7 linked regions of the Homo sapiens genome follow. The protein of the gene in region 1 purifies or fractionates together with the protein of each later gene. This does not show direct contact. Each region holds a gene or a part of one and is shown in the gene's direction. Other genes may lie near its edges. The genes, in order: PBXIP1, EXOG, PACC1, LEMD2, MYO1D, PNKD and ATP13A2.

Region 1 (2,520 bases):
GGAGTCGGGGAGCAAGAAGGAGGGCAAGCGACAGGGCCCGAAGGAACCCCCAAGGAAAAGTGGTAGCTTCCACTCCTCTGGAGAAAAGCAGAAGCAACCTCGGTGGAGGGAAGGGACTAAGGACAGCCATGACCCCCTGCCATCCTGGGCAGAGCTGTTGAGGCCCAAGTACCGGGCACCCCAGGGCTGCTCAGGTGTGGACGAGTGTGCCCGGCAGGAGGGCCTGACTTTCTTTGGCACAGAGCTAGCCCCAGTGCGGCAACAGGAGCTGGCCTCTCTGCTAAGAACATACTTGGCACGGCTGCCCTGGGCTGGGCAGCTGACCAAGGAGCTACCCCTCTCACCTGCTTTCTTTGGTGAGGATGGCATCTTCCGTCATGACCGCCTCCGCTTCCGGGATTTTGTGGATGCCCTGGAGGACAGCTTGGAGGAGGTGGCTGTGCAACAGACAGGTGATGATGATGAAGTAGATGACTTTGAGGACTTCATCTTCAGCCACTTCTTTGGAGACAAAGCACTGAAGAAGAGGTGGGCAGCTGTGGGGGAGTTGGGTCGGGTGGGACAGAGGCAGTCGGGAGGATGTGAAGAGCAAGGATCATTAGTTTGAGTATCCTTACTTTTGGTCCCCAGCTGGCTTCCCTTAGAGAAGGCATTCAGGTCCGCTTCCTTTCTTCCCTTGAGGGTAGGAAGCTGCCTGTGCCCACCCCAGAGTGGTCCTGAGCAGTCCCCTTTTGGGCAGGGGGATTCTTTCTCCTGAGTTGCCCTGCCCTACCTCTACCTGCATGGCCCAGGGGACGAGGGAGATCCCCATCTTCCTGTCTCCCCGACTGGAGCCTTTATCCTGGGAGACCAGGTTTTTCCCACATATGCTTGGTGGTGCCTGCTCAAGTCAGCTTCATTGGGAGGAGCAGGGTCCTCTCTCCTTGGGGAACCCGTTTTCATTGCATGGTATTGTCCCCTAAAGGCCTCTTCCTCCCCACAGGTCAGGGAAGAAGGACAAGCACTCACAGAGCCCAAGAGCTGCGGGGCCCAGGGAGGGGCACAGCCATAGCCACCACCACCACCACCGGGGCTGACACCCTGCCCCACAGGGAATGGCCTTGGCCTGGCCCAGCCCAAGATCCCAGCGTTATCTAACTCCTGGAGGGTGGACTCTGTCCTGGCTTGTTTGGTGTCCTCAGATATCTTTCACACAGTAGAGCAAAATCACCAGCCCTGCACTGATGTCACTTTATGTAGAAAAAGGCCTTAGCTGGACCTGCGTTGCCGTCTATGCAAATGCATGCAAATACTCCAGGCCCTGGGATGTGGGCTTGTGTTTTGTCACTGTGAAGGGGGAGATGGGAGAGGAGCCTGTTTTGGGGTGGGGTCTGGGGAAGGCAATCTGATTCTGAAGCTAAAGAGCTTTCATCCTCTTGAGTGTATGTCCCCATAGTGGGCCCCTTGACCCACATGCTGACCGGTGCCTTGGGATTTGACTAGAGTTGCTGGCTCGAGGCCCAGCACGAGGACTTACCCTGGGGTTTTGTTAGGTTTGGAAGCAGCTGTCCCTAGGGGGTGAAGTCCCCCCCCTTTTTTTTTTTACCCCTGCTTCTCCCACGGCTTCACCTCCCTATGTGAACTGTAGACTCAGATCCCAATAAAGTGCTGTTGCAGCTATGATGCTAGGTGGTTTCTAAGCACAGGGGACACCCCACACCCCCTGCCTGAATGGATGGGTCCATCCCAGGCACTGGTACTTGCCCCCTTGTTCTGTATCCCCCTTTGCCCTTGCCTTGCCCTTCCAACAAACCCTAGGCCCTTGAGAAGCTGATACTTCTCCTTTTGCTCACAGCTGCCTTGGCCCCACCCCTGGGAGATGTAGCAAATTGAGTGTGGGTTTTGGAGTCTGAGCCTCAGGCTCAAATCCAGGCCAAGTGATCTTGGGCAAGTTAATCTCTGGGAACTTTGGGTTTCTTATCCTCAAAAAAGGCGATGGAAGGGCTGGGGAAGTGATTAAATAAAAGCAACGCAAGAAAAATGCCTCTCCTGTTTTGGGCACTCAAAAGTTATTGCCTTCTTTAGGGAAGGGTGTGGAGGAGGGAAAAGAACCCAGGCCCAGAAGGAAGAGCTTCTGGGGCTGGGGAGGTGAGGGAACCACTAGGTGGCACCCTGGCTCCATTTTGCTCCAGACCTCGCCTCTCCCACTACTCACTGTCCCCAAAATCTCAGACCCTACCCCACTGACCCCAGCGCCTGCTCCACTGGCCAGCTCTCCCAGGATGACCAGACTCCCCTTGGCTATTCTCTAGGAAGTCCTTCCTGAGATCTAACCTTAGTCCCTTCGGCAATACACTGGGCTTTTTGATGACCCTGGAAATGCCCAGGAAGTACAGGAGACAGAATAATGTGGTGTGACTGCTCAGGCAGGAGGCGGGGGACTACAGGTTCTAGAAGGGGCTGTAACTGATTTCTGTATTATTTAGCAAGCGAATATGTAACTCTGTTTAAGGGCTTAAAGGTATTAGTTCATTGAATTCA
Region 2 (3,500 bases), on another chromosome or scaffold:
TAACCCTATTAAAAATGTTAGTTTTACATATGATGACGAGTCTTTAAAATAAATTCATTCAGTAATTCTGGTCCTTGAAATTTATCCTAAGGAATTGATACAACGTTGCATTATATAAGAAATGTTAACATAAGCCCAATTGTCCTGCAAGAGGAATGGTTAAATAAAGTATATCATCTTGTTGGAATGATACATAATTCTTGAAAGCTGGTTGGGAACTATGGCATAAAAAAAGTTTTAAGTTCATGAAATTTGAATTCCAGAATGTACTCTGAGCGCACATAAAGAAAAATGTAGATAGTTTTGTTAGTGTATGTGATTTTTAAGTTTTTTCTGTGCAGTAAGCAAACTGGGAAAATAATTGTTTATATGCTTATAATGTTTTGTGCCATGTTCTTGTTTAATTTCTCAAATGCAGTTTTTCTTGGTATCTTTCATAGGAATTGATATGATTTGCTGCTGTCTTACATGTATATATGTGAGAATATCATACATTTTTTTATTTGTTTTTCAGAATAGAAATGTACTGTCGAGAGCTGACAGAAAGGTTTGAAGATGTTTGGGTGGTATCTGGGCCTTTGACCTTACCTCAGACTAGAGGCGATGGAAAGAAAATAGTTAGTTACCAGGTAAGGATGTTTAATAGTCAGGTTTATGTTATCTGTATGAGATTATAATCTCACTTTCCATTCTGCTTTTTATTTTTATTTTTATCATTCAAAAAAAATTTTGCATTCTACTTTTTAATTTCACTTATTCAACAATATTTATTGAACACCTATTAGGAATGATAGGCATAGGGAATATAGTGATGGATAAAAGCAACTATTGACTTCAAGGAACTCACGGTTTAGAGTGGAAAACAGATGTTAACAATTAATTACATTAAAGTGTGACATGCTGTAATAGAGGTAAACACACACAGTGTGGTCTTGTGAAAGGACTGATGGGCTCTACTCATATGAGTCAGGAACGCTTAAAAGAGGAAGTGATATTGAGCTATACCTTGACAGATAAGAGTCAGGAGTGGACCCTGAGGATTCCAGAGGATGGAGCAGGATGAGCACAGGACATTTGTGGTCAACATCAGGGTTTTGAGATTTATATATCATTCATAAAAATTGGAGCTTATGGTACAAAACAGTGTGGGTGGCTCAAGGGGTATGAAGAGTTCCATAACAACAGGTGGACGGGTGAGATAATATGCGACTTTCTATTCTATGATGAAGACTTGGGTTTTAATTTTTAGGCACTAAGAAGTCATAGATTTGTTTTAAGCGTGGGAGAAATATGATATTTGGGTTTTATAAAGAGTATTTTGGCAGCAGCGTGTAAAGAGATAGGTGGGAAAAGGGAGCATTTGAAGAAGAGATTAGAGGCAAGGAGATGAGTTAGGACATACAAGCAGTTGGAGTGAGGAATAATAGAGGAACACAGGAAAGAGTAACCATGAATAAATAACTTGTTTGAGTGAGGAAGAGGGAGAAGTTCCAGGATAACAACTAGATTGCAGACCAGGCTCAGTGGCTCATGCCTGTAATCCCAGCACTTTGGGAGGCCGAGGCAGGCGATCACGAGGTCAGGAGTTCGAGACCAGCCTGGCCAATATGGTGAAACCCCGTCTCTGCTAAAAATACAAAAATTATCTGGGTGTGGTGGCGTGTGCCTGTAGTCCCAGCTACTTGGGAGTCTGAGGCAGAAGAATCGCTTGAACCCAGGAGGCGGAGGTTGCACTGAGCCGAGATCGCACCACTGCACTCCAGCCTGGGCGACAGAGCAAGACTCCACCTCGAAAAAAATAAAAATAAAAATAAAATAAAAACAACCAGATTACAGTGTTACAGTGAGTTGAATAAATGGGAAGAAAAGCTTTTCTTCTAGAAGCTTCTTTTTTTTAATATGCAAGATATGTGAGCACTTTTATAGACTGAAAGAGAGATTAAAGATAGGAGAGTGTAATTAGTGGTGTGAGAGCTTCAGACATCTAATGTTGCTGGGAAATTCTTAGCTAGCCTTTCATATTGGCAATTTACAAAGTGGTATACCTGAAGAGCAGGTGTTCTTAGAAAAAGTTTAACATTTAATCTTATCATGCAGAAATATCCTGAGGATTCTTCCAAGAGGGTGGCTGAAATGTTATACTATACTGTGAGGCTTACAGAGGGCAGGGAACAGGTGGAGTGAAGCAGAAGAGGTGGTAGAGTGAGTAAAAAGAAGCACTGAAGGACTTGCTAATAAGGCCAAAGAGGAGGGGAGGGAACACCTAGCTCAGCTCTGGAAATAAAGTAGATATTTAATAAATGCTGGTTAGGTAAATGATTACTTAAGTCTGTGATAAAATTTAATAACCTGAGGAACAGATTGAGGAACCACCCCCCCCCCAAAAAAAAACCAAAACTTTTAGAGTATATTCTGTCCATTTGACTTGCTTATTATCAGCCTGTCTAGATCAGATGTGCAGTAATGTCCAAGCATCCAAGGATTTGTATAGGTCCATATGAATAGCCCACTTTCTCTTTTTCCACACAAAATTATGACCCAACTACTTCTTTTTGTTAAGTGGAAATGATAGAGTAGTTGTTTTCAAGGATTTGTACATCCTTGGAAAATTCCAGTAGATATGGGAGTGAAGGAAGTCAAAGGAATTAGTATTTTAAAATTAATTCATTTAATATCTCTCCTCCCATATTAATTTCTCTCCTCTGATTAACTTGCTAATTTAATTTTAGTATATTTTATAGTCTTAGGAGAAAAAAAGGCTTAAAGCCCCCTGTATTATTTTTCAAATATTAATTATTCTTGGTCTTTGTTAAATCCTGTTTATTTTATGTCAGAAAAGAGGCTCTTCTAGCTTTGACTTGTATATCTTAAATGGTTAAATTACAGTTTTATTTGTGCTTTGTTTTTATAAAATTGAAAAATTTATATCACTAGCCTACTGTGTAGTAGAACAAAAATTTGTACAATGTTTAAAACGAAAAATTAACCAATAATTACAAGCATTTCACTACATAGATTTTTGTGTGGCTATTTCTGTAAAATATGTGTTGCCCAAATGCCGTAGTGGAAAATGTATTGTTTTTCTTAAGTTGGATATAATTTTTAAAAATAGAACTGATAAAAATATATCTTCTAGTTGTTTCTGCTGAAAAGGCCCAGAAGAATTGGTATGTCATTAGCAATGAACACATCTTGAGACCCAGATATTTGTTTCTAAAAAGCATCTCCTGAAAAGACTCAGCGCTTAGAGAAATGACTGATTTAAGGGGTGGTACAGGGAGAGTACAAAATGGAACATCATATATCAGAAAGCCAAGGAAGTGCTCAGACAAATGGTGGGGATATGTCAGAAGGACATGTGAATCAGCTTGAAGGAGCTCCCACTTACTGTATCTGGTGCTATTGAATATCAAAATAAAATGGATTATAAACCTATTGAATTAAATAAGAATACATACTCAATAAATATGTAAATACATAGGGTGTAAAGAAAAGCTTCT
Region 3 (3,500 bases), about 57 Mb from region 1:
CCTCACTGCCGCCTTGCAGTTGGATCTCAGACTGCTGTGCTAGCAATGAGCGAGGCTCCGTGGGTGTGGGACCCTCTGAGCCAGGCGCGGGATATAATCTCCTGGTGTGCCATTTGCTAAGACCATTGGAAAAGCACGGTATTAGGGTGGGAGTGGCCCGATTTTCCAGGTGCCATCTGTCACAGCTTTGCTTGGCTATGAAAGGGAATTCCCTGACCCTTTCTGCTTCCCGGGTGAGGCGATGCCTCACCCTGCTTCAGCTCACACTCGGTGCGCTGCACCCACTGTCCTGCACCCACTGTATGACAAGCCCCAGTGATACGAACCCAGTACCTCAGTTGGAAATGCAGAAATCACCCATCTTCTGCATCTCTCTCGCTGGGAGCTGTAGACTGGAGCTGTTCCTATTCAGCCATCTTAGAACCCAATATCAATAGTCTTTTTTTTTTTTTTTTTTCTTTTTGAGATGGAGTTTTGCTCTTGTTTCCTAGGCTGGAGTGCAATGGCGTGATCTCAACTCACTGCAACCTCCGCCTCCCGGGTTCAAGCGATTCTCCTGCCTCAGCCTCCTGAGTAGCTGGGATTATAGGCATGCACCACCACGCCCAGCTCATTTTTGTATTTTTAGTAGAGACGGGGTTTCACCACATTGGCCAGGATGGTTTCGATCTCTTGACCTTGTGATCCGCCTGCCTCAGCCTCCCAAAGTGCTGGGATTACAGGGGTGAACCACCACACCCCCGGCCTCAGATATTTTTTGTGACCCATTTTCTGTCTCCAGTTACATGTCACTACACTGCTAGATACTGTAACAATTTTCCGGGCTCCATTTGGTTTTTTTTTTCCTTCAATATTTTCTTCAAATTGGATAGTTTCTGTTGATTTAACTTTGAGTTCACAAACTCTTTCTCTGCCATCTTTTGCTATTAAGCCTATACAGTGAACTTTTTATTTCATTTATTTCTTGTCAGATCTGGAATTTCCATCTGTTTTTTTAAATTTTATGAAACATTTTTACAGTGGTTAGATACACGTAATGTAAAACTCATCATCTTACTCATTAAAATGTAGAGTTCAGTGATATTAAGCACTTTCATATTGCTGTGCAACCATCACCACCATCCATCTCCACAATGCTTTTTCATCCTGCAAAACTGAAATTCTATATATTTGGCCATTGTTATTAGTTTCTGTTTCTCTATTGATCTTGTCTTTATTCCTTATTCAGATATTTTCCTTTAAGTGCTGTAAATTTTCTCTCTGCTAAATTGCAACACTGGGTCATCTTGGTGTTGGTTTCTATAGATTGCTTTTTTCTTGAGTACAGGTCACATTTTCTTGTTTCTTAGCATGTCTAGTGATTTTTGATTGAACACTGGACATTATGAATGATATAGAGATTCTGGATTCTGTTATGATCTTCAGAAGGGTATTTTTTTTTCTTGGCATATTGTTAATATGGCAAGATTTAAGCTCTAAACTCCTATCTCCCCTGCATTAGCCGTAGTTGAAATCTCCATGCAGTTCTTTCAATTTCCAGTTGTTACTTTTTGCTGGCCCCCCCTGGGTTCTCCAGCCAAGGATCTGAACATATATTTAGTTGCAGATTTGGGAGTTTCACCCCCTGTGTGGCTCCCTCCCTTTCATGGTTTTGTCTTAACTTTCTGGCTGCTCTTCCAGCCCTGAACTTTGTCCCTGTCACTCTGAACCATGCCTTATAGGGATTGGCATGTATTCTTAGGCAAAAAGCTACAGATGTATAAATCTCACCAAGTACAGTTCTTCTCTTTCAAGGGTAGCCTCTCTTTCAATTTCTACCTGCTTTTGATCATTCTCCCAGTGCCTTCAAATAATTTAAAATATGTTGTCCAAAGTTTATAATTGTTTTCTGTGGAAGGGTGATGTGACACTGCTACTCTGTCACTGTTGGAAGCCAGATGCCAAGCAGATACCTTTTGGGGCTTACGTTCAGATGCTTCCCTTGTTCTCAGCCTTGTGCTCAGCTGGGCTGTGGAGGAAATAGGACTTCTTCTCAGGGAGCTCCATTTTCAGCTGAGGAGCAGAGAGGGCACAGGGAGCCCTGTGGGAGTATCTTAGTCAGCTCAGACTGCTGTAACAAAATGCCACAGTTGAGTGGCATAAACAACAGAAATTTATTTCTCACAGTTCTGGAAGCGAGAATCCAATATCAAGGTGCCAGCAGGATTGAATTCTGGTGAGGCCTTTCTCCTTGGCTTGCAGATGGCTGCCTTCTCATTGTGTCCTCACATGGCCTTTTTTCCTGTGTGCATGTGCTCCTAGTGTCTCCTCCTCTTATAAGGATTCTGGTCCTATTGGATCAGGCCTCATCCTTATGGCCACATTTAACCTTAATTATATCCTTGAAGTCCCTGTCTCTAAATATACTCACATTGAGGGTTAGGGCTTCAACCTGAATTTGAGGGTGGGGGATACAGTTTCGTCCATAACAGAGATTAATCTAGCTTCTAGCCTCAGGATTTTGTGAGGGAGGTAGGGGAGACAGAGTTGTGTTGTACCAATAGCATCAGGACGTGTTCAATCAGTCACCATGTAAATGCAGAATGTTCCAGGCATAGCATGAAGGGCTAAGGATTCAGTTAGGGATAAGACTGGCCCCATCCCTGCCCTCATGGAACTCACAGCCTAGGAGGATAAAAGATGTATAGACATGACATTGCAGAGTGATGAAGTAGGGGACGTACAGGGCTCCCTGGGAACACTGAGGAAGAGGTGCCCAAATAAAGGTTAGGGGTCAGGAGAGGCTTCCTCAAGAAAATGTCTTTCTTTCTTTTTTCTTTTTTTTTTTTTTTTGAGATGGAGTTTCGCTCTTGTTGCCCAGGCTGGAGTGCAATGGAGTAATCTCGGCTCACTGCAACCTCCGCCTCCTGGGTTCAAGCAATTCTCCTGCCTCAGCCTCTTGAGTAGCTGGGATTACAGGCATGCGCCACCACGCCCAGCTAATTTTGTATTTTTAGTAGAGACAGGGGTTTCACCATGTTGGTCAGGCTGGTCTCGAACTCCCGACCTCAGGTGATCCTCCTGCCTCGGCCTCCCAAAGTGCTGGGATTACAGGCTTGAGCCACTGCGCCTGGCCAAGAAAATGTCTTTCTAAATTAAAATGCTTCCATGGAAGGATGGCGTGACCAAGCTACTCTGTCACTGTTGGAAGCCAGATGCCAAGCAAAAAGCTTTCGGGGCTTAGGATGAGTGAAGCATCAGCTGTGGAAGAAAAGAAAATCAAGCAGAGGGAATGGTAAGTGTGAGGGAATCCCGGGTTGAGAAGGGCACTCCAGAAGAACAGAAAGTCGATGAGTAGAGGTGGAGCTAGAGCTGGGAGAACTGGGGAAGTGGAGCAGTGAGGGATAAGGCCAGAGAGGTAGGTTGGGGCCAGCTCACTTGTTGGATTGTAACTGCCTATCCCTCTAGAGAGTAAACTCCTTTTTTCTGTTCTTTTTGTTTGTTTTTTGCTTTTTCTTTTA
Region 4 (3,500 bases), on another chromosome or scaffold:
GGGAAGGCAGCCTGGAGGGTGGCAGAGCCGCTCAGGATGACCATATTGAAAGTGGGTCCTGAGAAATCAGGACACTTGGGATGCCAGCCATTCCAGCATGCAGCCTCAAGAGCATGATATTCTCGCCCTGGGTCACCTAGCTGGAAGAAGGCTCTGGTGTCCCCACCTCTGCAGGTCCTGACACCTCCTGGCCAGAGACCATGGTGGAGGCGCCGTGGCTGGGGTCTGGCCTCGGAGAGCCTGGTGGTTTTCATTCCCCATGAGCCTCACGGATTCCCCATGAGCCTCATGGATGCCCCATGATCTTTACACTTAAACAGCTTATGTGCCTCCTTGTCACCGAGGAAAAGTGCAACCTCCCAGATTCTGTCTTTCAGTTCTTGCCATGCAATTGCAAAGCTAGTGATTCAGTAAACATTTCCATTTCTCTATGCTGGGAGGTGGGAATCCAATTTACAGTTTAATCTCCTGCATGCTGAGAGAGGCTGTCAAAGACCTGACAGGGGGACGTTGCTTTAGCGGTAGGGGTTCAAGCCTGCTGCCGTCTTTAAAGCTTTATTCATTCTAAGTAGCCAATGTGGGAAATTTCTGGAAAGAATGCAGCCAGGATACCAAGCCTATTCTATAAGCAAGTAGAGGCCTTGCGTCCCCACTTTCCTTCGCTTCCTCCTGTTTGAAGTGGGGCTTGCACTGCCTCTCCTTGGAGCTTTCCAACATGTTCAGAGCCCTGTGTCCTGTTTCAGGTTGAAAGGAGAAGACCAGTCTGAATTGGTGACGACTGTGGACAAGGTGGTCTGCCTGGAATCTGCCCACCCCCGCATGGGTGTTGGCTGCCGCCTGAGCCGGGCCTTGCTCACTGCTGTCACCAACGTGCTCATCTTCTTCTGGTGTAAGTCCTCGGCCGCCTTCCCTCCCCTTCTGTGCAGTCAAGCATACTCCTAGGCATGAATGATGAGCTATAGAAATTCCAGGCCCGGAGGGTTCATTTCTGTCTAGTGAACCTGAGGTCTGTCTCATAAAACAGAGGAGATGAACAAGTCAGCCTCTGCCCTGGGTTGTATTTACCTTTGGAGATTGGTGGCAGGAATCCGTGAGGATAACTAGAAAATGTCCTTGATTCAGGGCAGGGGACTGTCAGATTTCCTGAGCGGGAGCCTGGCCTGAGCAGGAGCTGGGCCCCACCCCTTCTGGGCTCTGCAGGGATCCCAGTGTGGACCAGCTTCGAGCAGGAGGCACAGCAGGGGCTTGGCCTACTTTTACTCCCTGAAAAATATAAACATCTCCTGGAGAGCTACAGATACCTGATGAAAGCAAGAAGGACTCAGGGTGCTGCACTGAAAGGAGGGCACCAGTCTTATCCCCTGACATCGGGGGCCGCCTTTGAGCAGAGACCTCAGGGCGTCTCTGAAGGCGAAAGGCCAAGTCACAGAAACCACGGCTTTCCAGAGATAGTTGGAGCTACAAATCACAGACCGCCTCAGTGTGCACACAGCTCCCTCCCCTGTGCCATCAGGCACAGAAATCATTATCGGCAGCAGCATCTCGGAATACAAAGGGCCCCGGCATGTATATATGTATGAAACACTGTGTTCTGGTTCACAAGGGAGGAGATGAAAGCCCCAGAATGAGGTTGGGAGGAGCCGAGATCTGGACGGCTGGGGATGCCGCTGTGGTGACAGCCGGTGGGAGGAAGATGATCACTTAATAATCTGTCGTCCCTCTGCATTTCTGTATCTTTTGTTTCTCGCATGCTGGCCCTGAGCCTGACACATAGTAGGTACCCAAACCCATGTGGTGGATCCCCCACAGCATCCATCACAGCATCTTGTCCATGGTGAGACCCACTGCCAAATGAAGTGTGAGGGATTAACAGTGTTTTGTTCCCTCACAGGCTTGGCTTTTTTGTGGGGGCTCCTAATTCTCCTAAAATATCGGTGGCGAAAGTTAGAAGAGGAGGAACAAGCCATGTATGAGATGGTGAAGAAGATTATAGGTGCGTGGCCCCCTGGTGAATAAAGGGTTGCCGACGCCAGCCAGAGGGTCCTTGCCCTAAATGGTGTGCTCTCTCCTGCAGACGTGGTCCAGGACCATTACGTGGACTGGGAGCAGGACATGGAGCGCTATCCATATGTAGGCATCCTGCACGTGCGCGACAGCTTGATCCCTCCACAGAGCCGGTGAGTCCCTGGCTGGGGCGCTGGGTGTGAGGTAAGATGGGGTCCGACCCCACTGAGCTCCCCAGAAGGAAACCCAGAGCCTTGCATCAGATGTCAGCTGAGGGCAGTGCAGACCCCAGGGCCAAGAGTGGCTCTGCTCCCACTCCTGCTGCTCCCCAGCATGCTCGGCTCTTTATGGCAGGATGAGCTAGAAAAGACATATGAAAGCACAATCCCACACCTCTGTAGAGAGAACACTGGCAGTGGTGATACCAGTTAGGAGGCCTTGGGCTCCAAGTAATAGCAGCTCCCTCCCCCAGGGCACAAGTAGTGAAGGATCTCCTCAGTCTCTGTAAGTGGAAGTTCAGAGCTGCATGGGCTCCAGGCACAGAACAGTCAGGTCTCCGGTTCCATTGCTCTTGTGATTCTCGTGGTCCCACACTCCTCCATGGATGTTATCAACAGACTGGGGTCCCTCATGGTTGCAGATGGTGGCCAACAGCAGCTGGGGCACTGTCTGCCTTGTCACAGCCAGCAGGGGAAAAGTAGGCCTATTGTTGTCTTATAAGCAAGAGAACATGTTCCCAGTAGCCTCCAGTGACACACTCCTTGAGGCTTTATTGACCAGAATCTCTTACATGTCTGTTTATGAATCAGTCACTGGCAAGGAGGAGGAAATTGTTTTTCAAACTTTTTAAACCATGACCTGCAGTCAAAAACACCTGTTACCTGCAACATCATGGTCCAGTTCCCACACACGCATGCGTACACTCATGCATATACATGTAATTGAAAGCAAAGTTTCACAACATGAATGGGGTCAGCTTCCAGGGCACATAGCTTCATGGGAAGGGGTGGCAGGGCCACTGTCATGTGCAGCTGCAGGGCACCTTCCACATGGGCTGTGACTGCTGGAGTTGTACACTGGGGTCCTGACAGAACCAGGGTGGGGGAGGGCAGAGTCCCAGGAGACAGCCAGCAGGGCCCCCCCCAGTGTTGGCTCTGGTTGTGGTCCCTCCCTAGCAGACACTTGCTGTGGTTTCTGGCCAGATGCTGTCATCTGCTGGGTGATGCTGAGAGCTCACCCTTGCTGAGTGCTCCCTGGGAGCCGGGCACTACTTGGAGCTCTCCACAGATGCAAACTCACTCACTTGGTCCTCACCATGGTTCACGCACACAACAGAAGTGGCCCCATTTTACCTATAAGGGAACTGAGGCACAGGGAAGTAGAGGAATGTGCTCAAGAGTCCCATGGCTAGTGGCATTTCCGTGCTCCCGCCACCAGGCTCTACTGTCAACATCATCCCTATCTGCAACCCAAGAGGAATCAGAAAAATAGAGCCG
Region 5 (3,500 bases), on another chromosome or scaffold:
GAATGGCATCCCATGCCTGTGGCTAACCAGTCATTTAGTAAGGGAAATAAGATCACTCTGATGAGTTTAGACCAGTGAAGATTTACCTCTTGAGGCTAGGTAGATGCCAGTCACAAAGGACATGCACACTTAGAGAGGAGTAAACAAATCAGGGTTCGATTGGCAAGAAAGAAATGAGGGTAGAGGATGGCTGTTAGGTAAGCAGCCAACAGTTCCCCACAGTAGGACATTTAGATTTTATCCAGTTACTTTCCAACTTCAACATGGTTGCAGTTTATAATAATAGTAATATCTGATACTGCTGAGTGGTTTTTTTTTGTATGCTGGTGCTAGAGAGGTGCTTTATATAAATTTTCATTCAATTCTGACAACCACCCTGTAAGATATATGTTATTATGCCCATTTTATTTGTGAGGAAGTTGAGGTTCAATGAGGTTAAGTATCTTGTCCAAGGTAAAAACAAAAACCTAGGAGGAGGAGGGGCTGGCCTGGTTGTCTCCTGGACACTAGAGGAACTTGTACTCACCAGGCAGAGAGGTCCCCTTCCAGGGCCCTTCCTCAACAAGTGAGCATCAGGCCAGGTCTCTGTATCCAAACAAGAGGAGAAACTTACTGAGGAAAGAATTGGTCAAGCCTCTGCGGCTGCTGCTGTGGTAAAACTAATATAAGCAGTTACTATTGCTTTATTGCGAATTTCTGTTTACGCACTTGTATTTCCAATGTGATGGCCACAGCTCTAAAAGGGCAGGCGATTCATCTTTGAGCTGCCTGTACCAGTTAGTAGAGCTGACTTGTGAAATGCGTATCAAGTGAGTGAAAGAATGAAGTTATAGTCCCAGACTATTTAATAGCTTACTAAATGACTGAGGCTGGCTGTTTTGCTTTTGAGGGCCCGCCTTGCCTCACCTGGAAAATAAACCGCCTGATTATACGAGAGTGAAGTGTTGTTGCCAGCCTAAATAAGACAATTGTGGAACAAAGAGCCACAAACAACAGTAGCCAAGCATGTATCTTGGAGGCTCCCACATTCAGCACTTGCATTTGTGATCTCACATCCATGCTGTTGCCTTCACTGATCATGGAGTGGGGGATCAGCTTGTCTGAGCCAGCTCAGGACTTGCTCCCTCACTGAAGGTTCCAGAAAACGGCACAGTGCTTATTTTAGGTGATGGCTTTCACGCACAAGTGGGCTTTGTACGTGCTGAATAATGTTGCAACTCGTGAAATCATTTTTATTTTCTCTGGAGACTCACCATCCCCTCAAGTGATTTACTATGAAGGCAAAACCTTGGTATAACTTAGTTTTATAATTGTTGAATTTTAATGCTCATAGGAAATATCTGTAACTTCAGTTTTTCATTTTCATCCCCAGTCTTCTATCAATGATGCTGCCGAATTCAGAGTTGTTGCTGATGCCATGAAAGTCATTGGCTTCAAACCTGAGGAGATCCAAACAGTGTATAAGATTTTGGCTGCTATTCTGCACTTGGTGAGTAGGGACACCTCTCAGAATGTATTGTCTTCTGCTGAGAACAGGATGCTTTCTCAGAAGATTTTGTTTTTTCCCTGTAGATTTAAAAAGTATTCAGAGAAAATTTTGTACGTATTTTGAAGAAATTACTATGTCTGTGGTTCTTGCCATCATTTTATAATATTATGAGGGATTTTCCAAGCTACTATAGGGTTGGAGACTACTACTTCAGTTGATTGTCTTACTGGTATTGTCAAACTTTGAACTGGTTAATTTTAAGGATAAAGGAATTCAGCAGTGATGTGACTACTAGTGGTATAAATTTCTAGTGGCATTTGAAACATAGAATCATAGGTTATCGGAACTGGATTTTTAATCATCTCATTTTACAGATTGGGAAATAGCCCTGATGGGTGGCATGACTACCTCAAAGGCACAGCCAGCTCATCCCAGAGCCAACACCATAGACCACTTTTGGGCCACTTGTTTCCCACTATACCACACCAAACTTAGAAGTGAAGAACTGTGTGTTAGATTTCTTTCATTAACATTTATATAATTAGAGATACTTAAAATACACTGAACATATAATCTTACAATAAGAATGACAACATGGATTCAAATCTGGAATAAAAATTACTTTTCACTTAATATAGCAAGATTTAACTCTAAATGAATCAGAAATGTGCAGGATCTTTATGAAAAATATTATATAGCAATATAAACAATAAATGTTCCTGACTAGGAAGACTTTAGTATTATAAATTGTCTCATCTGTTTGAATCAGTTTTTAAATACAGTGCAGCAGTCCTTTTCAGAATCCAAACAAGAATTTTATTTTTTGTTGTTTTGTTTTCTTTTTGAGATGGAATCTCGCTCTGTCACCCAGGCTGGAGTGCAGTGGTGCAATCTAGGCTCACTGCAAGCTCCACCTCCCGAGTTCATACCATTCTCCTGCCTCAGCCTCCTGAGTAGCTGGGACTACAGGCGCCTGCCACCACGCCTGGCTAATTTTTTTTATTTTTAGTAGAGACGGGGTTTCACCATAGCCAGGACAGTCTCGATCTCCTGACCTCGTGATCTGCCCATCTCAGCCTCCCAAAGTTCTGGGATTACAGGCGTGAGCCACTGTGCCTGGCCTTTATTTTGTTTTTAACTTGACCTGTTGATTCTAGAATTTACCTGGAAAAAGATCAAATAAAGTATATTAAAGAAGTGTCGTATAGGGTAGGGTAAGGGAGGAGAGGGAACATGACTAGTTCTACCAAACTTAAAATGATAGTAAAAGCTAGAGTACTTTATAACTTTGCACAAGTTCAGCACCAGATCAACAGATTAATCAACTGATTGGTTAATGTGCTGGACATTTGGTAGATGGTTATAAGTATGTATTGCTTATTGAATGAGTGGAATATAAATAGACTCAAACACTTGAGGAGATTTAACATATTAAAAAGGTGACATTTCAGCTGGGCGGGGTTGCTCACACCTGTAATCCCAGCACTTTGGAAAGTTTGAGGTGGACAGATTGCTTGAACCCAGGAGTTCCAAGACCAGCCTGGGCAACATGGCAAAACCCCATCTATACAAAAAATACAAAAATTAGCCAGGCATGGTGGCACGCATCTGTAGTCCCAGCTATTTAGAGGGGCTGGGGGTGGAAGGATCGCTTAAGCCTGGGACGTTGAGGCTGCAGTGAGCCATGGTGCACCACTGCATTCCAGCCTGGGTGACAGACCCTGTCTCAAAAAAAAGGTGACATTTCAAATCAGAAAAAGCTAGACTGTTCAATAAGTCCCGTTAGAGCAACTAATCATGTGAAAAATAAAGTTAGATTCTTACTTGATACCATGTACCAAAATCAATTGTGGATGGATTAAAAAGTTTAAGGAAAAAGGCCAGGCGCGGTGGCTCACGCCTGTAATCCCAGCACTTTGGGAGGCCGAGGTGGGTGGATCATGAGGTCAGGAGGTCGAGACCATCCTAGCTAACATGGTGAAACCCTGTCTCTACTAAAAATACAAAAAAT
Region 6 (3,500 bases), on another chromosome or scaffold:
TGCCCAGGCTGGAGTACAATGGCATGATCTCAGCTCACTGCAACCTCCACCTTCTGGGTTCAAGTGATTCTCCTGCTTCAGCCTCCAGAGTAGCTGGGATTACAGGCACTCACCGCCACTCCCAGTTAATTTTTTTTTTTTTTTGTACTTTTAGTAGAGATGGGGTTTCACCATGTTTGGTCTGGCTGGTCTCAAACTCCTGACCTCAGGTGATTCCCCCCCACCGCCCTCGGCCTCCCAAAGTGCTGGAGTTACAGGTGTGAGCCACCGCACCAGGCCCAGTTTCCTCATTTTGTAAGATGGGACTGGAGTTGACATGGACTGAACCTGCAGTCCATCCCCTCCTCCATCTGCAAAACTGTAGGTATACATACAGCTCTTTGAGGAAGAGAGTTAGCTCTCATGAGCTTTTGGAAAGGGTCCATGGTGCAGAAAAGGTCAAGCACTACAGCCAAGAGGTCTCTTCCATATCCAGTGATCCAGTGTGATAGGGTTGAGCTCTCCCTTTCCCCACCCAACTCCTGAGCCTTCACTAGTCTATTGCATCCGTCCCCGGAAACTGCTGCAGTAAAGTGTATTTGATTACCTTGGAAAAGGTGGGACAGCCCAAGCCAGAATGCAGAAGGAAGAAGTGGATACTTTGGGCAGAGCCACACATACTCCTGGAGCCATACAGGGTTTTAACTTCTAGACATAAACTTTATTACATTTATAGTTGTATCCCTTTGTGTGATATAGTTAGGATTTCTCTATTAAGTAATTAATCCTAACTATATCCTTGGGCTGATTTGATTTCTGCCCCCACCCGACAGACTGACCCTTGTCCCCCTTCCCCATTCCAGCTCAAGGCACTTAATATTACAAAGAAGGCAGTGGCTGGCTGGAGAGATGGGCCTCAAGTCAGAAATCCCCCAGTGCAACTTAAGACAAACAGAGAGAAGTCACCTTCCTCTTAGGACCCTCCCTGGGTTAGCAGAAGGAAAGAACCCAGAAGTCTTCAGTACCACAGTAGGCTTCGGTATCTCCCTAGCCAGGTGAGGGACCCCCAGGCATTCTCCCTGCCCGCACCGAGTCTCTCTTCACCCTGGCTACTTCCTGGCCACACGTATGACTCTGCCCCTTACTTTCTGCTCTGAGCTGCCTGAATACAGGAAGCAAGAGTTCACTCTGACCAGAGATCCAGAAGCCTGCAAGGAGGCCCCAGCAGCTTTCAAGAATGGGGAGCAGATGGCCACATGTGGCCTGCTCTGTCTTATAGCGTCACAAGCCAGGAGCAAGCCCAGGGGAGATGCTGTTCCATGCTGGCCTGTATAGGTTACTTTGCTCGTTCTGTTATCTGTCCCCCATCCCTAACCCAGATAAACAATACATATGTCACTGAAACAAGAAGGGATTGAAGCAAGGAGACCCATGGGCACAGATCTCTTCTACCTTCCTGAGCTAAAAGATGCCAAGCCAAAGGAATACAGGATAATGGCCTATGTGTCCAGGAGGCCGGGGACAAAGCTCTCTGGCTTTGCTGGGGGAAGAAATAGCTCCAACTACGTAGTCAAGAAGCCTGTGACAGAGGTGGGAGGGGAACCTCGTGACCTTGAAGTCACTTCTACCTTTCATATTCCCTTCTAGCTATCGAATAGGCTCTTTTCATATTCCTCACAACCCCAGCTGTTAGGAAGAATGTGGTGTCATACAGTAGGTGGCGGGGAGAAGACACATCTTCAGCCTAGTCCCTGCCAAGCCCACCAAGAGCAACAGTTAGTCCCTAGCTCCTCCGTCCCCACCAAGTACCCACACATCCATAGCCAGAGAGGCCACCTGTCTCCAGGACAGAAAGGAAACTGGGCATGTTACTCAAGGGGAAGGAAAGGGGCCTAAAGCCCAGACCACAGTCATAGGGCCCAGCCCTCTAGCTTGGAAGGGAGAGCCCAGGATCGGGTGAAAATGGGGGCTTGCTCCTTAATTGCGATCCCCCATCAGCTGCAGCACAAAGGTGAAGATGTAGATGATGTCTGTGTAAATCTGCAGGGCGCCAGTGATGTAGTCCTCGGGGCTGATGGTGTGCTTCCGGTTCCCCAGGACCAGCTGTGTGTCGTAAGCCAGGAACTGCAAGGATAGGGAAGCCAGAAGTGAGAACTCAGGCATCAGTGTCCAGAGCTCATTTTTGGTCAGCAGATTTGTCTTGGGGGCCTATGCGCCACACAGTGCTTAGGGCCACATTAACGCACAGCATAACATATGGGCTCTATACTGTAGCTGCTCACAGTCTAGGAAAGGAGGCAGACACACCGTTCTCAATATGGCTGACTAGTGTTCTAATAGCAGGCAGCTTGAACAAGAGATGGCAAGAGTGCCCACAAAAATCAATGGAATCTCTGGACAGTAGTGAGAGGAATGGCCTGCTATGGCCCCATTCCCTGCCTCCCAGGCAGTCTAAATTCATGCCCCCTTCCCTAGATTCCTCCCCTCATCCCCTCAGCTCCCCTTCCTAGAGTGGGGCTGGGACTTACCAGGGTGAAACAAATGGCCCCCAGAGCAGCATAGAGCATGTGGAGCCAGTAAACCTGGAGAAGAAGGGGACAGAGAATGGCATTAGAAACCTCAGCAAACCACAGGCCCACAGGCCCCAGCTTCCCCCGGGATAGTGGCATGAGAGTGGGTAGAGCTGGGAAGCTAGCTCTCCATGAAAGGCTACTGCCTTTCCAGATCTTGGAGGAAATTAAGACTGGTGATATATCCAGCAGAGAAAGCAGAGGCCATCCTGCAATGGCTGTATAAAACCAATCTCCAAAGCCAGTCAAGGTACACAAGTGTCTACTATACTTCTAGAAAAAAAGCAGTTGAGTTACAGCTCTGAAAGGGGCAGACCCAGCATTCAATAGACCAGTTCCTACAGCCCAGCCTGGGAGGGGTAGACTAAGGAAGAAGGGAGGCCCCCCAACCCCTCTGGTGAGTATCAAAATCCGGGAGCACCCACAGGACAGCCCACATGACATGCCCACAGGTGGCCGTCCACAGAAGGACAGAGCTGGCCCATGGGCAGGCAGCCCTCGTGTCCCCATCCTTCCCCTTCGGCACTGTTCTCCCCCAGCTGAACAGAATAAAGGAAATAATTGGATCCAGAGACCCCCGCAAGGTCCCTTCCACCTAGGCCCATCATCTCAGTCCTCTGGGTTCCTCTCCCAGTCTGCCTCCGAGAACCTGATTCTCAGCTGCCAGCCAGATTGAACCCACCCCTTCCCCTAGGAGTGCAGTGATGCAGTCCAGGGCTTCAGGTGCTCTGGCTCCAAGGCCGCCCATCTCCACACAGAGAGTCTACCCTCACCCAGAAGGATGCTGCCTCCACGTTGGTGCCTTTGCTAGCCAGTCGAGAGGTTCTGGAGGTCAGAGCCTGCCCCGGGGACCTTTGGGGCCTGCGAGACCATGCTATATAGGAAGTCTGCCCTGAGCACTGGGTTCCCTGACCCCAGCTCTCCTGGGACACTCACGTATTGGAAGTAGAG
Region 7 (3,500 bases), about 140 Mb from region 1:
TGTCCCCTTCTCCATAGTGGATCGTCATCTCAGAACCTGCCGCAGTCAGCCTAGCCAGAGAGACCAGGTCCAGGAATTGGAGGTTCTGCCCAAGGCTTGGGTCACAGATTGGGGCCCCACTCATAGGGATTGGAGGCCAAGAGGCAAATCCACGCAGCCTGAGCATCTATGGGGTCCCCAGAGACACGCCCTAGAGCCTGGGTCCTCTCTGTGCGTCCTCCACTTTCATGCTCCCAACAGTCCCGTGGGTTGGGCCTGGGACTGCACTGTTCACACCTGAGAAATCCAAGCTTCAGTTGGAGGCTGTGACATGGCCAAGGTCACACAGGGACAAAGAGAAGCCAGTGACCTGGACACAACTAGAATAAAGTGTGAACATCCCAGCCCTCTGATCGGGGGCAGGCACCATGAAAGAGATCTTTGAGTCTGGCCCCATAGAAATCAGTCTGTCACTTAGAAGCTATGTGGTTTTTTGTTTTTTGTTTGTTGTTTTTTTTTTTGAGACAGAGTTTTGCTCTTGTTGCCCAGGCTGGAGTGCAATGGCGTGATCTCGGCTCACTGCGATGTCCACCTCCTGGGTTCAAGTGATTCTCCTGCCTGAGCCTCCTACATAGCTGGGACTACAGGCGCCTGCCACCACGCCCAGCTAATTTTTTTTTTTTTTTGTATTTTTAGTAGATACGGGGATTCACTATGTTGGCTAGGCTGGTCTCAAACTCCTGACCTCAGATGACCCACCTGCCTCGGCCTTGCAAAGTGCTGGGATTATAGGCATGAGCCACCGCACCTGGCTGGAACTATGTGGTTTTAGGCCAGTGGCTTCACCTGTCCATGCCTTGGTTTCCTCATCTGTAGAATGGAGCTAATGGTGGTACCGGCCTTGTAGAATTGTCATTGCCATTGTATGACACTTAGATAAAGCACTTGGCGTGTAGTGGGGGTTCAGTAAATACCCTTATCCTATTTATTTATTTGTTTATTTTTTTTGAGACAGGGTCTCCCTCTGTCACTCAGGCTGGAGTGCAGTGGCGCGATCTCAGCTCACTGCACCCTCCACCTCCCCAGCTTAAGTGATCCTCCCACCTCAGCCTCCTGAGTAGCTGGGAGCGTAGGCACAGGCCACCCCATCAGGCTAATTTTTGTATTTTTTGTAGATATGGGGTTTCGCCATGTTGCCCAGGCTGGTCATAAACCCTTGTCCTCTTTAGAGCGGAGAAACTGAGGGCCCTGGGGATGTCTGGTTGGGTGGGGATGGGATTGACCAGGAGAAAGGCCTGGCTCCAGTCCTTTGGCAGCCACTGGGCCCTCTGCTCCCATGGGCACAGGAGACCCAGCCTGTGGCTGGGCTGCCCTGGGGGACGCGGCCCTGACGCTGCCTCCCGCCCCTCCCCCAGGCACTGAACCCCTACTATGGGTTCCAGGCCTTCAGCATCGCGCTGTGGCTGGCTGACCACTACTACTGGTACGCCCTGTGCATCTTCCTCATTTCCTCCATCTCCATCTGCCTGTCGCTGTACAAGACCAGAAAGGTGAGTGCCATAAGGTGGGTGGGGACGGGACAGGTGGGTCCCCAGGGGCCCCCACCCACTCACGGCCCTCTTGTCCCCTGCCCACAGCAAAGCCAGACTCTAAGGGACATGGTCAAGTTGTCCATGCGGGTGTGCGTGTGCCGGCCAGGGGGAGGTGAGGAGCTAGGGCCCAGGGGGCGGGGGCAGGAGTGGGAGGGTGGGGGGGCATGGCTGGGGCTGGCCCCACCTAGCTGAGCTCCTCTCCTGCCTGCCTGCAGAGGAAGAGTGGGTGGACTCCAGTGAGCTAGTGCCCGGAGACTGCCTGGTGCTGCCCCAGGAGGGTGGGCTGATGCCCTGTGATGCCGCCCTGGTGGCCGGCGAGTGCATGGTGAATGAGAGCTCTCTGACAGGTGAGCCCCCAGCCCCTGGCCTGCAGCTTCCTTCCTCCCCTGCCATCCAACCCTTTGCCCTGCGGCAAAAGTTTTCATTTGAGTTTCCTTTTCCTTTTTTGTTTTTTTGTGAGACGGAGTTTCACTCTGTTGTCCAGGCTGGAGTGCAGTGACATGATCTCAGCTCACTGCAGCCTCCACCCCCCAGGTTCAAGTGATTCTTGTGCCTCAGCCTCCTGAGTAGCTGGGACCACAGGTGCATACCATCACGCCCAGCTAATTTTTTATTTTTAGTAGAGATGGAGTTTCACTATGTTGCCCAGGCTGGTCTTGAACTCCTGACCTCAGGTTATCTGCCCACCTCGGCCTCCCAAGGTGCTGGGATTTCAGGCGTGTGCCAGCGCTCCGCCTCCTCTTCCTTTTTCTCTCAAGCAACAATCCCAGCTTTAGGACTTGCTAACCTCACACCCCTGGGCCGTTACCACGTATCATCTCCGTGCCTCAGTTCCTTCTTCTGTAAGATGGCTGTCAGTCACTCCTCCTGGACAGAGTTGTGCAAAGTGCTTAGGAGCGTGAGAGGTGCAGCATAAATGGCCAGCCACCCAGTGCATCTGGGCTATTTCTCCTTTTTTTTTTTTTTTTTTTTTTTTTGAGATGGAGTTTCACTCTTGTTGCCCCGGCTGGAGTACCATGGTGCGATCTCAGCTCACTGCAACCTCCACCTCCTGGGTTCAAGCGATTCTCCTGCCTTAGCCACCCAAGTACCTGGGATTACAGGTGTGCGCCACCATACCCGGCTAATTTTGTATTTTTAGTTGAGATGGGGTTTCACCACGTTGGTCAGACTGGTCTTGAACTCCTGACCTCAAGTGATCTGCCCGCCCCAGCCTCCCAAAGTGCTGGGATTACAAGCATGAACCATAGCACCTGGCTGCATCTGAGCTGTTTCTATACCAGTGCCCACCTTCAGGTCATAAAGATTCCAGATGGCACAGGAGAGTGGGAAGCCCTCTCCCAGAGTGAGAGACTGCGGTCCCCATTCACTACCCCACAGTCCCCTTCCCTTCCCCTCCCCAGGGCAGCCACTGTGAAGGGTGTGAGGTGTCTTCCACGCCTTTTTCTGCATTACGTGTGTGCACATGGGCTGATTTGCCTCTCCTTTTGTTCTGAACGTGGGATTGTATGCTGTGTATTGTTCCATACTTTGCTTTTTCTCCTGGCATCCTTCCACAAGCACGGATGGCCCCACCTCATGGCTGCATGAGAGTCCACAATACGGATGTATCGTAACTGACTCAACCGGCCCGCTCGCCATGAGTATTTAGAATGTGATTTTCCAGCCATTGCAAAGGACGCCACAGGAGCAGCTTTGTCCTGTGTCTCTTGATGTGTGCAAGTATTTCTTTCTCTGAGATGTGTTATATTTTGGTGGTAGATACTGGAGAGAGTTTACTAAAAACCACAGGATAGTGGTTTTTTTCCAGGGAAGTTTTCTGGCTGGCATTGTATTTGTATCACAAATCGTAGGCCAGGCGCAGTGGCTCGCACCTGTAATCCCAACACTTTGGCAGGCAGAGGTGGGTGGATTGCCTGAGGTGAGGAG

What was found.
Region 2: the proteins of PBXIP1 (region 1) and EXOG purify together in Homo sapiens (co-immunoprecipitation; 2 studies listed by BioGRID and IntAct, with this or other methods). This does not show direct contact.
Region 3: the proteins of PBXIP1 (region 1) and PACC1 purify together in Homo sapiens (co-immunoprecipitation; 3 studies listed by BioGRID and IntAct, with this or other methods). This does not show direct contact.
Region 4: the proteins of PBXIP1 (region 1) and LEMD2 purify together in Homo sapiens (co-immunoprecipitation; 2 studies listed by BioGRID and IntAct, with this or other methods). This does not show direct contact.
Region 5: the proteins of PBXIP1 (region 1) and MYO1D purify together in Homo sapiens (co-immunoprecipitation; 2 studies listed by BioGRID and IntAct, with this or other methods). This does not show direct contact.
Region 6: the proteins of PBXIP1 (region 1) and PNKD purify together in Homo sapiens (affinity purification with mass spectrometry; 3 studies listed by BioGRID and IntAct, with this or other methods). This does not show direct contact.
Region 7: the proteins of PBXIP1 (region 1) and ATP13A2 purify together in Homo sapiens (co-immunoprecipitation; 2 studies listed by BioGRID and IntAct, with this or other methods). This does not show direct contact.

The regions. Positions count from the first base shown.
Region 1 is NC_000001.11:154,943,580-154,946,099, reverse strand, and holds the end of PBXIP1 (pre-B-cell leukemia transcription factor-interacting protein 1), read left to right. Parts: coding exon 1-528; intron 529-982; coding exon 983-1,076; 3' UTR 1,077-2,020; downstream 2,021-2,520. UniProt on the Homo sapiens protein: Regulator of pre-B-cell leukemia transcription factors (BPXs) function. Inhibits the binding of PBX1-HOX complex to DNA and blocks the transcriptional activity of E2A-PBX1.
Region 2 is NC_000003.12:38,506,340-38,509,839, forward strand, and holds part of EXOG (nuclease EXOG, mitochondrial isoform 1 precursor), read left to right. Parts: intron 1-514; coding exon 515-629; intron 630-3,500. UniProt on the Homo sapiens protein: Endo/exonuclease with nicking activity towards supercoiled DNA, a preference for single-stranded DNA and 5'-3' exonuclease activity.
Region 3 is NC_000001.11:212,387,387-212,390,886, reverse strand, and holds part of PACC1 (proton-activated chloride channel), read left to right. Parts: intron 1-3,500. UniProt on the Homo sapiens protein: Chloride channel gated by pH that facilitates the entry of chloride ions into cells upon exposure to extracellular acidic pH. Involved in acidosis-induced cell death by mediating chloride influx and subsequent cell swelling.
Region 4 is NC_000006.12:33,775,631-33,779,130, reverse strand, and holds part of LEMD2 (LEM domain-containing protein 2), read left to right. Parts: intron 1-743; coding exon 744-889; intron 890-1,891; coding exon 1,892-1,993; intron 1,994-2,074; coding exon 2,075-2,177; intron 2,178-3,500. UniProt on the Homo sapiens protein: Nuclear lamina-associated inner nuclear membrane protein that is involved in nuclear structure organization, maintenance of nuclear envelope (NE) integrity and NE reformation after mitosis.
Region 5 is NC_000017.11:32,765,625-32,769,124, reverse strand, and holds part of MYO1D (unconventional myosin-Id), read left to right. Parts: intron 1-1,372; coding exon 1,373-1,489; intron 1,490-3,500. UniProt on the Homo sapiens protein: Unconventional myosin that functions as actin-based motor protein with ATPase activity. Plays a role in endosomal protein trafficking, and especially in the transfer of cargo proteins from early to recycling endosomes.
Region 6 is NC_000002.12:218,273,519-218,277,018, forward strand, and holds part of PNKD (probable thioesterase PNKD isoform 1 precursor), read left to right. Parts: intron 1-678; exon of another isoform or gene 679-1,956; coding exon of another isoform or gene 1,957-2,103; intron 2,104-2,507; coding exon of another isoform or gene 2,508-2,561; intron 2,562-3,485; coding exon of another isoform or gene 3,486-3,500. Other genes in the region: TMBIM1 (protein lifeguard 3), read right to left, coding at 1,957-2,103, 2,508-2,561, 3,486-3,500. UniProt on the Homo sapiens protein: Probable thioesterase that may play a role in cellular detoxification processes; it likely acts on a yet-unknown alpha-hydroxythioester substrate.
Region 7 is NC_000001.11:16,998,429-17,001,928, reverse strand, and holds part of ATP13A2 (polyamine-transporting ATPase 13A2), read left to right. Parts: intron 1-1,394; coding exon 1,395-1,529; intron 1,530-1,616; coding exon 1,617-1,683; intron 1,684-1,786; coding exon 1,787-1,918; intron 1,919-3,500. UniProt on the Homo sapiens protein: ATPase which acts as a lysosomal polyamine exporter with high affinity for spermine. Also stimulates cellular uptake of polyamines and protects against polyamine toxicity.